Linked DNA regions of Homo sapiens. The protein of the gene in region 2 interacts with the protein of the main gene of each other region in a biochemical or structural test. Each region holds a gene or a part of one and is shown on either strand. Other genes may lie near its edges. The genes, in order: LRRK2, NEK1 and YAP1.

The links.
Region 1: the proteins of NEK1 (region 2) and LRRK2 interact on a protein array, tested with the Homo sapiens proteins (2 studies listed by BioGRID and IntAct, with this or other methods).
Region 3: of the proteins of NEK1 (region 2) and YAP1, one has a biochemical effect on the other in vitro, tested with the Homo sapiens proteins (one study listed by BioGRID).

Annotation. Positions count from the first base shown.
Region 1 is NC_000012.12:40,318,841-40,322,497, forward strand, and holds part of LRRK2 (leucine-rich repeat serine/threonine-protein kinase 2), read left to right. Parts: exon of another isoform or gene 1-1,135; intron 1,136-1,147; coding exon 1,148-1,335; intron 1,336-2,193; coding exon 2,194-2,348; intron 2,349-3,194; coding exon 3,195-3,341; intron 3,342-3,478; coding exon 3,479-3,657. UniProt on the Homo sapiens protein: Serine/threonine-protein kinase which phosphorylates a broad range of proteins involved in multiple processes such as neuronal plasticity, innate immunity, autophagy, and vesicle trafficking.
Region 2 is NC_000004.12:169,476,456-169,480,112, forward strand, and holds part of NEK1 (serine/threonine-protein kinase Nek1), read right to left. Parts: intron 3,080-3,657; coding exon 2,948-3,079; intron 1,926-2,947; coding exon of another isoform or gene 1,917-1,925; exon of another isoform or gene 1,069-1,916; intron 1,043-1,068; coding exon 977-1,042; intron 898-976; coding exon 669-897; intron 1-668. UniProt on the Homo sapiens protein: Phosphorylates serines and threonines, but also appears to possess tyrosine kinase activity. Involved in DNA damage checkpoint control and for proper DNA damage repair.
Region 3 is NC_000011.10:102,207,815-102,211,471, forward strand, and holds part of YAP1 (transcriptional coactivator YAP1), read left to right. Parts: intron 1-1,702; coding exon 1,703-1,750; intron 1,751-3,657. UniProt on the Homo sapiens protein: Transcriptional regulator with dual roles as a coactivator and corepressor. Critical downstream regulatory target in the Hippo signaling pathway, crucial for organ size control and tumor suppression by restricting proliferation and promoting apoptosis.

The DNA.
Region 1 (3,657 bases), on a different chromosome or scaffold from region 2:
ACAACATGGGAGAAGTCTTAAACAACAGTTTTTATTATTTATAGGCCCATTGCACACTGTCATTAAATACCAATATGTTCAATCAACCATGCATTCATTGATTCAATAAATACTGTACATACAAAATAGAAATACAGAAATGGGTAAGACAAGTCCTTGGGCCTAAGGACTTTATAACCTGGTATTTCACTCAACTACATGATAGCATAAATAATGTTTGCTTCTGTTTAAGTATTCCTTAAACATTATAGATCTCCCAAAGAAAATTAAATACAAACCTCTTTTTAAAGTGAATTTGACAAAGCAAAATAAATTGGAATATATAGATAAATATGCTAAAATTTGTCATATGTACTTTGCGTACTTTACATGTGTTATTTCATTCTCAGGGCAATCTAAGACAGTCACTTTTATTATCTCATTTTATAGAGAAGAAAGCTGTGCAGTAAAGAAATCAAATACCTTTCCCAAGGTTACAGAGCTAGTAGTAGAGCCTGGATTTGAATCTGGGTTCTGACTGATTTTTAACTGCCATGACAAGGATCAAAGCTCAAAGTGTGATCTCTGTGTTAGAAACATCGGGGTTGCTCTTTAAAAAAGCCGATTCTCAGGCCTCAACCCAGACCTACTGACCCAGACACTGCAAGTAGAATCCATCAAAATGCAGTAGTTACTTTGAGAATCATGAAACTCTGCTACACAGTCTGTCTTCCTATTCATGGAAGTCCTCTCCTAGTATATAAATGTGAAGTAATATTTCTATTTCAAACCTGTATTGATAACTGTCTGGAAGATAATTTTCCTGGGAATATATTATTGATGAGACTGCAAAACAGATGTGAGGTATTGGATTGATCTTTCCATTGTAGCTAGGGAAATACTGATGTTCATTGTTTCAGTGAAGTTCAATGATTTCCTATCCGAATTAACTCCCTTAATTTAACAATTTTTTTTTTTTTTTTGAGAGTGAATGCCCCTCTGGGCTTCTAGGCCACATGGTTGCTAGAGAAATTAGGTACTGTGTTGCACTTGAAAACACTAAAATCTTTCTGACTACTTTCACTGAGCAAAGAGACATAAAATGCTTTAAATTTGCAACATTTCAGAAAATAAATTTTAGTGATTATTTATGACTCGAATCTTTCAGATTTTGACAGTGAAAGTGGAAGGTTGTCCAAAACACCCTAAGGGCATTATTTCGCGTAGAGATGTGGAAAAATTTCTTTCAAAAAAAAGGAAATTTCCAAAGAACTACATGTCACAGTATTTTAAGCTCCTAGAAAAATTCCAGATTGCTTTGCCAATAGGAGAAGAATATTTGCTGGTTCCAAGCAGGTAAAGAAAACCTTAAAAAATTAATTGCTACATGGAAATTCACTATCTATTCTTTTAATTGTCAAACTAACTGTAGTCTATAATAGATGTATTAAATAAATAAATATATTTTGCTTCTAGTGTAAACCTCCTACTGACATGTATCATTTATTTTGGAATAAAACATTGCATCTGACACTTTAACAATATAGTAAATCACTTACTTTATGTGTATAGTTACTAGTTGGCTTATCACTGTTGAAATTATTTAAGAAAGGTAAATAGTGGAGATTAATGTGTGTGTGTGTCTGTGTTTGTGTATGTGTGTGTTCTTAAACAACACTGAGAGAGTTTATTAAGCAAGTTCTGAGAAGATAGTGAGTTTTCAACAGAATTTTAAAAGCATTTATGGCATCACAATGGATGCCTATGTTTTAGCCTATACTATGGAAATTTTTCCTACTGCTCTAAGCAACTGGGAAATTTATAAAGTAATATGATGTTGAAATGTGCAAATTACATTGATTGATGGATGCAGCCAATTTTAAAAATAAATATACACTTTTTTTCTAGGACATGTATTTTTCAGGATTTATATAAGATTACATTTGTCTATGCATAACTAATTGTAATAATTTATGTATTAGTGCACAGGGATTACCGAAAATATTTCATGCATCTACATCTGAGCATGCATTTGAATTGGTTATTGACCACTGAATTTTTGGTGTAGGAAAAATATGTAGTGAAACAATGTTACAAAAAGATTACAATTGTTTGGAATGATTACCTTCATTGACTTTAAGCAGTAAAATCATTTGCTCAACAAGGTTGGGTGTTTTGTGAGGCTGTATAACCATAGTGTCCTTTTGCCTTTAGTTTGTCTGACCACAGGCCTGTGATAGAGCTTCCCCATTGTGAGAACTCTGAAATTATCATCCGACTATATGAAATGCCTTATTTTCCAATGGGATTTTGGTCAAGATTAATCAATCGATTACTTGAGATTTCACCTTACATGCTTTCAGGGAGAGGTAAGTATCTAATGAAGACTTATTAGATTTTTAGAGACTATTAATTTAGACTTATTAATTTTTAGAGAAATTAGGGAGATGGCATATGAAAAGTAATATGCCATTTTCTCAGAGTTTACTTGTTTGGAAGGCAGCTGAAGAATTAGAAAATAAGCTCATAAAACCTTGGAGTAGGCAATCTAAAGACACACAAGCACATATAACCTCATCTAATTTGTCAGGAAGAAAATTCCTTAGGTGCTCACTCAGATCTTGACTGTGATTACATTGTAGGGACTGTAATTATCTCTTTTCTGTTGCACAGCCACTAAGACATTTACAAAAAAAGAGCAAATCCGGTGTTTATAATGCTAACTCTTTCTTCTAAAATAAATAGAGACATTTTGGTACTCCAAAGGGAAAATATCATTTTGGGGATTAAAATTAGCTTTACACAGGTGTTACTGGTTTCCAAAATAAACCTTACCTTGATTGGAATTAATCAACATATAGGTAGTTACATTGCATTAAAAAGTTCAGAAAGTTTTGCGTTTAGCATGATCAAAAACTTCTTTTTAAAAATTATGAGGATTTATTTATGATTTTCTTTCTTCATCTGTCGAGCATATTAAACTGCTTAACAGCATCAACCTGAAATGGATCTTAATGTGCAGGGGATTTAACTCTTTTTATTGTAAAGTTGTGGATAAAATATTTAATAGATATGGATGAGGACTCATATCAGTAACAACCCAATACTTTATTTCAAAATGAATAGATCTGTATTACAATCACTTGTGTTGTGTGCAGTAGATTTTTTCCCTTTAACTTAGGAAGCAGTTAATAATTAATGGCTCCATTTTTTAGAACGAGCACTTCGCCCAAACAGAATGTATTGGCGACAAGGCATTTACTTAAATTGGTCTCCTGAAGCTTATTGTCTGGTAGGATCTGAAGTCTTAGACAATCATCCAGAGAGTTTCTTAAAAATTACAGTTCCTTCTTGTAGAAAAGGTAAGGAAATCAATTTGAATGTTTTCAATTGCAACACTAAAGAAATTTAAACTTAAAAAAAAAAAAAACTTTACCTTAAAGCTTTGCGACAGTATGAGGTTTAGACAAGGTGTTGAGCTCTGTTTTGAATCATGTAGGCTGTATTCTTTTGGGCCAAGTTGTGGACCACATTGATTCTCTCATGGAAGAATGGTTTCCTGGGTTGCTGGAGATTGATATTTGTGGTGAAGGAGAAACTCTGTTGAAGAAATGGGCATTATATAGTTTTAATGATGGTGAAGAACATCAAAAAATCTTACTTGATGACTTGATGAAG
Region 2 (3,657 bases):
GGTACCCAATAAAGAACTGTTGAATAAATAAGCAAAATAAATGCTATCAAGTCTTTGGGCTTTTTTCCAATGCAAGAAAAAATTCTACAAAAACAGTCTGTGAAAAAAATTACTTAAAATCAGATTTGTTGATGGTCAGACTTGCCCTTCTAGAATGTAAGCTCCACAAGAGCACATATGTTTCTGTTTTGTTCCTATATCTCCAATTCCTAGAACAATGTAAGAAATATAGATTCTCAGTAATTATCACCGAATATATAAATCATTAAGTCAGATTTTCTCAATACTCTCGCTAAATGCCTAAGAGATGTTTCTGAGACACTACCCTGGTTCTCATCAAGAATTATTCATAGTAACAGATTAATTTAACATGGTATACAGAGTTAAAGTAATGCAATTTAAATATGTATCATTAGTTCCCTCTCTCACACTATACACTTTTGTAATAAAAATCCTTGCTATTAAGGCTGATTAGTTTGATTAGTTTTCTCTGCTCTTCACATTTCACTGTGAGAGGGAGGCACTTCTATTCGCCCAAAAGGAAAATATATAGAATTCTTTCAGCTTCTCTCAATTCTTCTAAGTGTTCATTTTTTTCAGAGTGGTTAGTCTATAAGTTTACATATGTACTAGACCTAAATAGGATATTAATATACTACTATACATACTTTCAGTTGTAGAGAAGGATGTATCTAGTGTTAACTCATCCAGAGGAATCACAAGTTGACCTCCTGCCTCCCACTTCTTGCGATCAGATGAAACTGATTTTTCTTTTTCATGCTCTTTGGCATCTTCATGAACATTTATCTCAAAAGTATCAGAGAGATTCTGCTTTCCTTTTTCATCTTCTTGAGCTTTAAGATTTTCATTTAATCTACGAAGTATTTCTCGCTTACTCTGAAAGTCACGACATTATATATTTTAATATGTATATCATTAAGTAAAATGATTGATAAACTTTGAAAATTTTACTTACTGAAATAGCATTGTTGGTCTTTTGCATCTCTTCTGAAGTTTCCCGGGTATCAGTTAAACTACTGTCCTTTAAATGCAGATAGATACAGAGGAAGAGATAATTTTATTTTTTTAAATCTACCTTTAAAAATATTACATCCTCGTTACTTTTTGGTTTTCATTAATTTGTTCCTTGTAAATTTTTTATTCCTATAAAATGTTAACAAAGCTTCCTTCATTATCAGCAATGACTAACCTTTAAATATTATTAATTAGACAACATAGACAGGGGCCAATTCTCAATTATTTGTCATATTTTTAGATTACTGCTCACATAATTAACTATATCCTCTTCCTCTTTGGTACCTGATTTTTTGGTAATTTAAGTCAGAAAATTAGAGGAAAAAGTAGAAATTAGAGGAAAAAGTAGAAATTAGAGGAAAATTCATATACTCTCTTAATTATAACTAGAAAAAGTTTTGATAGATGAAGTAATTCAAAATAGGCTGTGTTATTCTAAAACTGTCTTTATGTTTCATGTATATATATCCTTGTTAAGCCATAGTACTAAATGTAATTGAGAAGTGGCTTTCCTCCCTAAACAAAGAGTGTAACAAAAATTAGTTCTGAGTCATTTGTACTACAAATGACATAAATGTTATCTCCTAATTAGCATTGTCAAAGCAATCCAGACTATCTAAAATTAAAAAACATACGAAAAGAAGAAATTAGCAGTTACGAAAGCTATGAAAGCAAAGGCATGTAGAAGATTCAAAGAACAATTTTCTAAGTTTTAAGTAAGTGACATTTACCAACACAACACAGAAAGAAAACCGTTCAGTTATATGGATTACCTCGAATTTTGTAATACTTAAAAAAAATTAAAAATTTGGTGGTCAGTTTCAAAGTAATATATGAAGCAATGAGACAAAGAACATTTTACCCAGTAAAGTAGTCAGGAATTAGCAGTCCTACAACCAGAGAGATGAACAGCTATTGAGATGTGAGACTGGGTACCAAGGAGGGACCACACAGTGGTATCTAAAGTTGGAGTAACAACGTGGCACACGCAAAGTCGTTATCAGAAAGAAAAAGTGACTAAGCCTACTTGAAGAACAATAGTTTCTTACATGAAGTTCTTGAGAATGATCAAGAAACTTATATTTTCCTACTGAGTTTTATTTTCAAAATCAACCCAAAGGCTATAAAAAAAAACAGCTAGTGTACCAATTTTGTCTGCAAATATTTACTGAAACTAAACAAATAAAAAGCACAGACATCCATTACCAGGAAAGGGGAAAATGAAGTTATTATGTTATCTGATTCAGTAGACTTTTCTCCTCCTGTCTGTTGAATTCTAGGCCGCAGCTCCACACTATGAGCCCACTTCTCTTAACCCCTGAACAGTCTTCACACTTCAGACAGATACCTGAAATATACTTCTAAGTTTAAGCTTTTTATTTGTCTATGTTTCTTTGTTTTACTATCTGTAGGGCATGACAGAGATTCAGAAGTAGAAGGTAAAAGGAATAACTGATGAATTAACTAGTTCTACTGAGTCCTCTAACATTTGCCATGTCACAAAATTTGAATAAATGTAAATATGTGTTGGACCTAATACCTAGAGCTACTTTAGCACCAAAGAGACATTATTCTTTTTAAAGTGAACATTTGTTAATCATGAGGGTTGGGTAGAAAAATGTTTATAGTATTATTTTCAGTACATTTCTCTGTATATTTTATTTTTTCAATATTCTTTTAAAGTAATATAAGAGTTATTGTGATATATTTTCATCTACCACGTGGTCCTAGATATAAAACTTATAAACAATGAGGCTCCAGTATTCTGAGTAAACTAAAATCCCTTAAAAAGTAATTTTTTTCCTTAGAAAAACCTGAAAGGGACATTAGGGATTAATGTGATTTCATTAAATTTAATTTCCTTTTAAATAATCTTTTGACTTTGAGGAGTTCTGAATCTTAGGAAACTTACCACGCCAACTTCTTTCAAAGCTGAAGTTACAGAAATAACAGATCTCATCTGTTGCTTTGATGGAGAGCCACCTGTTTCATGCTGTCCCAAAGGTGGAGAAACATCAGAACTCTTAACTCCTTTAGCCACCAACTATAAAAAAGGATTTTATTAAATACATTAGGGATTTTATATTTGTATGAAGAAATAAAATGGTACCTACCAGATCACTATTTATCCACTCTATCCACAAGTAGTTTTTTTCATTCCTGAATTATCTGTTGAGCAAGGCATTATGATGCTACATGCTGGGGATACAGCAGTGACTAGAGAAAAAAATCTCTGGTCTCAGATGTACACATAGTCATGTCACATAGTCCTAAATAACCCGCTTTCATTGCATTATCAATGTTTCATGAAATGATCCTGAAAAACTGTCTTTTAAAGATTCAAGTGTAAGATTTTGTTAATCTTACACTTCTAAAAGAAATGCTTTTGTAATTCCTGCAGGTTTGGGTACAATCTTCTCAAAGTTCAAATATCAATTACTCAACATAAGAGCCCTCATAAAAATGCCAACATAAATGAGAATGGAAGGAGAAACAGATCCAGGTAATAAGATTTACTTCACTGAAAACATCATGTTGTATTAACATATGTGCTTGTTTTTATGTTGCCATTTAAACTCTAAACAAAGTAAGATTATGAAACCTGAATTAATACAAGGAAAT
Region 3 (3,657 bases), on a different chromosome or scaffold from region 2:
TAGAAGGAGTAAGACAGTATGTGCCAACATACGATGTCAGGAACTTGTTGGGGCTCAGAAAATGATACTCCAAAATATGGTTCTTTGACAAACTAAGGAAGCAGCCTCAAGTTCTATGCCAAAGCACAGGATGAGGCTGTTCCTTGAAGTTCCTTTATCTGCCTAGAAACCAGACCCACCAAAAGGAATACAATTGCCTTTGATCCCCTCCTCAAAATTTCATTAACCAGAGAAGCCTGAAACTTGTATGACAGAGGAAAAGACTAAAAATTAAATATCACACCTAGAGAGCTCAGAGGAACTTTGCCCAGACTATTGTCTGTTCTCAGATCCCATTCAGTTTCCAAAGAGAATTATTTACTAACCATTGTCTGTGTACTGGGCCCATTCATTCTTCCTAAAAATCATTTACTGCCCTTCAAAATGGCGTCATTTCCCTCATGTCCCCTTCCCCTGTGAAGAAGGGTATTATATAGTATCTGGAACTCACTTGGTTATTGGGTAATAATTGTCTTGCAATTTCCCCCATGCTTATGCACCTTAAATAAATTTGTTTGCCATTTTCTCCTGTTAATTTGTCTATTATCAGTTCATTTTCAGCGAACCTTTAGAGGGTAGAGGGGAAGTTTTCCTTTTGGCCCCTATAAAGTGATCTTGAAAGAAATGTTTCTTTATCTGACATAAAAAAGGATGGAGAAAGGAAGCATTATTGTACCTCTGACTTTCTAACAAATTACCATAAAGGAAGAATATTTTTCGTCTACTATTGTTAGAACACCTTAGAACCATCAAAAATATAATTACATGGCTAATAGAAAAAAAAAGAGCAGTTTTAAAATATGTTTTATGTAACCTATTTTCATTGTTTTTCATTTTGTTGTTGCCGAGTAGTAGTTGTTCTAAGTAAATACAGGTCTCAATTTCACTATGAATAAAAACTGTCAAAATCAAGAAACTAAAAAAAAAGTTCTTTAATTACTAATGTCAAAACCATACTGTTTTTAAGATAATTTGTAAAGTCTAGAAATGGGGCCATTCGCCATTTTGTTTTATGCCATAGATCATCCTGGGGTTTTTTGGTGGGCAAATGCTGCTATTTGTAAAACTCTTCCTTCCAAAGATTTTCCTAAATCTTTATTCTCAAACTTACTCTGGGTGATGGGTCCTGGACAGAATAGCTTCACTTCCTTTAAAGGTAACTTCTTTGTTTCATCTTTACTGCCTACTGTGTCGTCTTTTCTTATGTTGAAGTTGACAGACCTGCTCTATTCTCATACTAATAGACTATTTTTAGATTTTTTTAAAGTAATCACAATAAATTCAGTATATCTTAAGTCTTTTGGCTTCCTGTGAACTTCTTCCCTTGACAGTTTATCTTAGCACTGAAACATCAAATATATTGTATCTGCTTTATCTAATACTCAGAAACAAAGAACCTACGTGACCAATATCAAATTTTATTTTTTAGTTCTGACTCCTAAAGTCTTGCTGTCCTATCCTCAATGCTGTTAAAAACTTCTGAGGTTCCAGTTTTGTTATGTGGTGACTCCATTGGCTCCTGTCTTCGTCAGTCTGCTTCTTCTTGGGTAGCTTGGGAATTCTGTGCTATGGTGATATGTCTGGATACAATTTGTAAGTCAGCCTACACAGCCAGACCATGTGGCTTAAAGTAATTTTTATCCGTCTTATTTTTTACTCTTAGGCAATGCGGAATATCAATCCCAGCACAGCAAATTCTCCAAAATGTCAGGTAGGCTCTTATCTGATGTTTTAGCACTGGAAAAAAAAAAAAAAAGATATTAAATTAGGAAAGAGAAACTTACATTCCAGGGTCCTGTCCTTATTGGACATTAGCCCAGAGAATAACTTTGAGCCATCTTTCTACCAAGATACTCAGGTTAACATTGCCCTTCCAAGAAAGTCTACACAGTCTGCTCCCTCCCTGCTCCTCCTAGGGAGTTTCTGTTTATTTTGATTCCATGGAGGTCTTTTTTATTCTATATTTAAATGTATTGTGTCTCAGTTGTACATCCTATCAGCTAGGTATGCCTAATTTTTATTTGAATAGCTTAAAATAGTATGTGTAATGATTTAAAGGAATTAATAAATTGAACAGTAACAAAAGCAGTATTTACTTGGATAGGCTACTTTAGGAAATTTTAGAGTCATGATACTATGAGGAAGAGAAAAATTCTTTCTAGTGGACATTCCAAAGGAAAAATATCAAAATTATCAGGAGAGTATCTGCCTGGATAGTGTTTCAGGTTTTCTTGTTGGCTTTTATCAGCATTCTCTGATGAACCCCAGGGAGCCCTGGTTGTGAAGGCATCTTATTTAGAAGGAAAGATTGTGGCCAATTTTTCTTCTAACACAGGCACTTGTCTGACTCGTGGGAAGAATCTCGTTCTTAAAACCAAAAAGATTTTAGGTGTTTGAGGTCCACAAGATTAGAAGAAATTCGGAGCCAGAGGATCATTCTACTTCTCTTGGGGCAGAAGCAACCATATAATGCCTCACCTTCTATGTAACTTACTCTGCACTATGCTAAATAAGTACATTGTTTTAGAATCTGCTGTAGAAGTAGGAGTTGGCAAAATTCTACTCATTTTGGATACTGTTAAGTTGTCCGTTGGAGCACCATGATGATAAAAGTCAGATACAGTCTTCATAGAAACCAGTTAATTTTGTGAGAGGGAAAATCTCTATTCTTCTTTATCTATCTCATAAATGCCACCATTAATCAAAAGACCAAGCAAGGGATAACTCAATAATAAGCCATCTTCACCAAAGTTGAGCATAGACATTCTTATGATGAGGGGGCACTAATATACCATTTGACTGTGAAGTGCAGGATAGCATTGGGTCTTTATAACGTGAAGCCATTTTTTTCTTTGCCATTTCTCTGAAGTGTTTGTTTTGTTTTGTCTTTTTGTTTTTGTTTTTTGTTTTTGTTTTTGAGATGGAGTTTCGCTCTGTTGCCGAGGCTGGAGTGCAGTGGTGTGATCTCGGCTCACTGCAAGCTCCGCCTTCCGGGTTCACACCATTCTCCTGCCTCAGCCTCCCAAGTAGCTGGGACTACAGGCGCCCGCCACCATGCCCAGCTAATTCTTTTTGAATTTTTTAGTAGAGACGGGGTTTCACAGTGTTAGCCAGGATGGTCTCGATCTCCTGACCTCGTGATCCGCCCACCTCAGCCTCCCAAATTGCTGGGATTACAGGCGTGAGCCACCACGTCTGGCCTGAAGTGTTTCTGAAAGAAGAATTTTATTCATGATAAATGAAATAGAAACTAATATAGGAGCAGAAATTAACTCAAAGGAGATTTGGATTCAGGTAAAAAGTCCTCCATGCCAAAAAAATGTTGAAATTGTTTCCTTTTTTCCCAAGGTCTTATACCCTGAATCTGATAAATAAGTCAAATTCTTCTTGATCTTTGTTTCATACTTGAATAGAAAAGTAAATCTTTACTGTTATTAAAATTATCAGGAATTCTTAGATTTTTTAAAATAGTAAAGTTTTAGAAAAGGTGAGGCTTATTAGTAGTAAAGCTTCTAAGATACGAAGATTAGAGGTAATTACTCAGATTTGCCCAGACCAGAGCAAAAAACTTGAAAGAGGTTTTTAAAAATCTTCTTTGCATATGCTGGAGATTAAAAT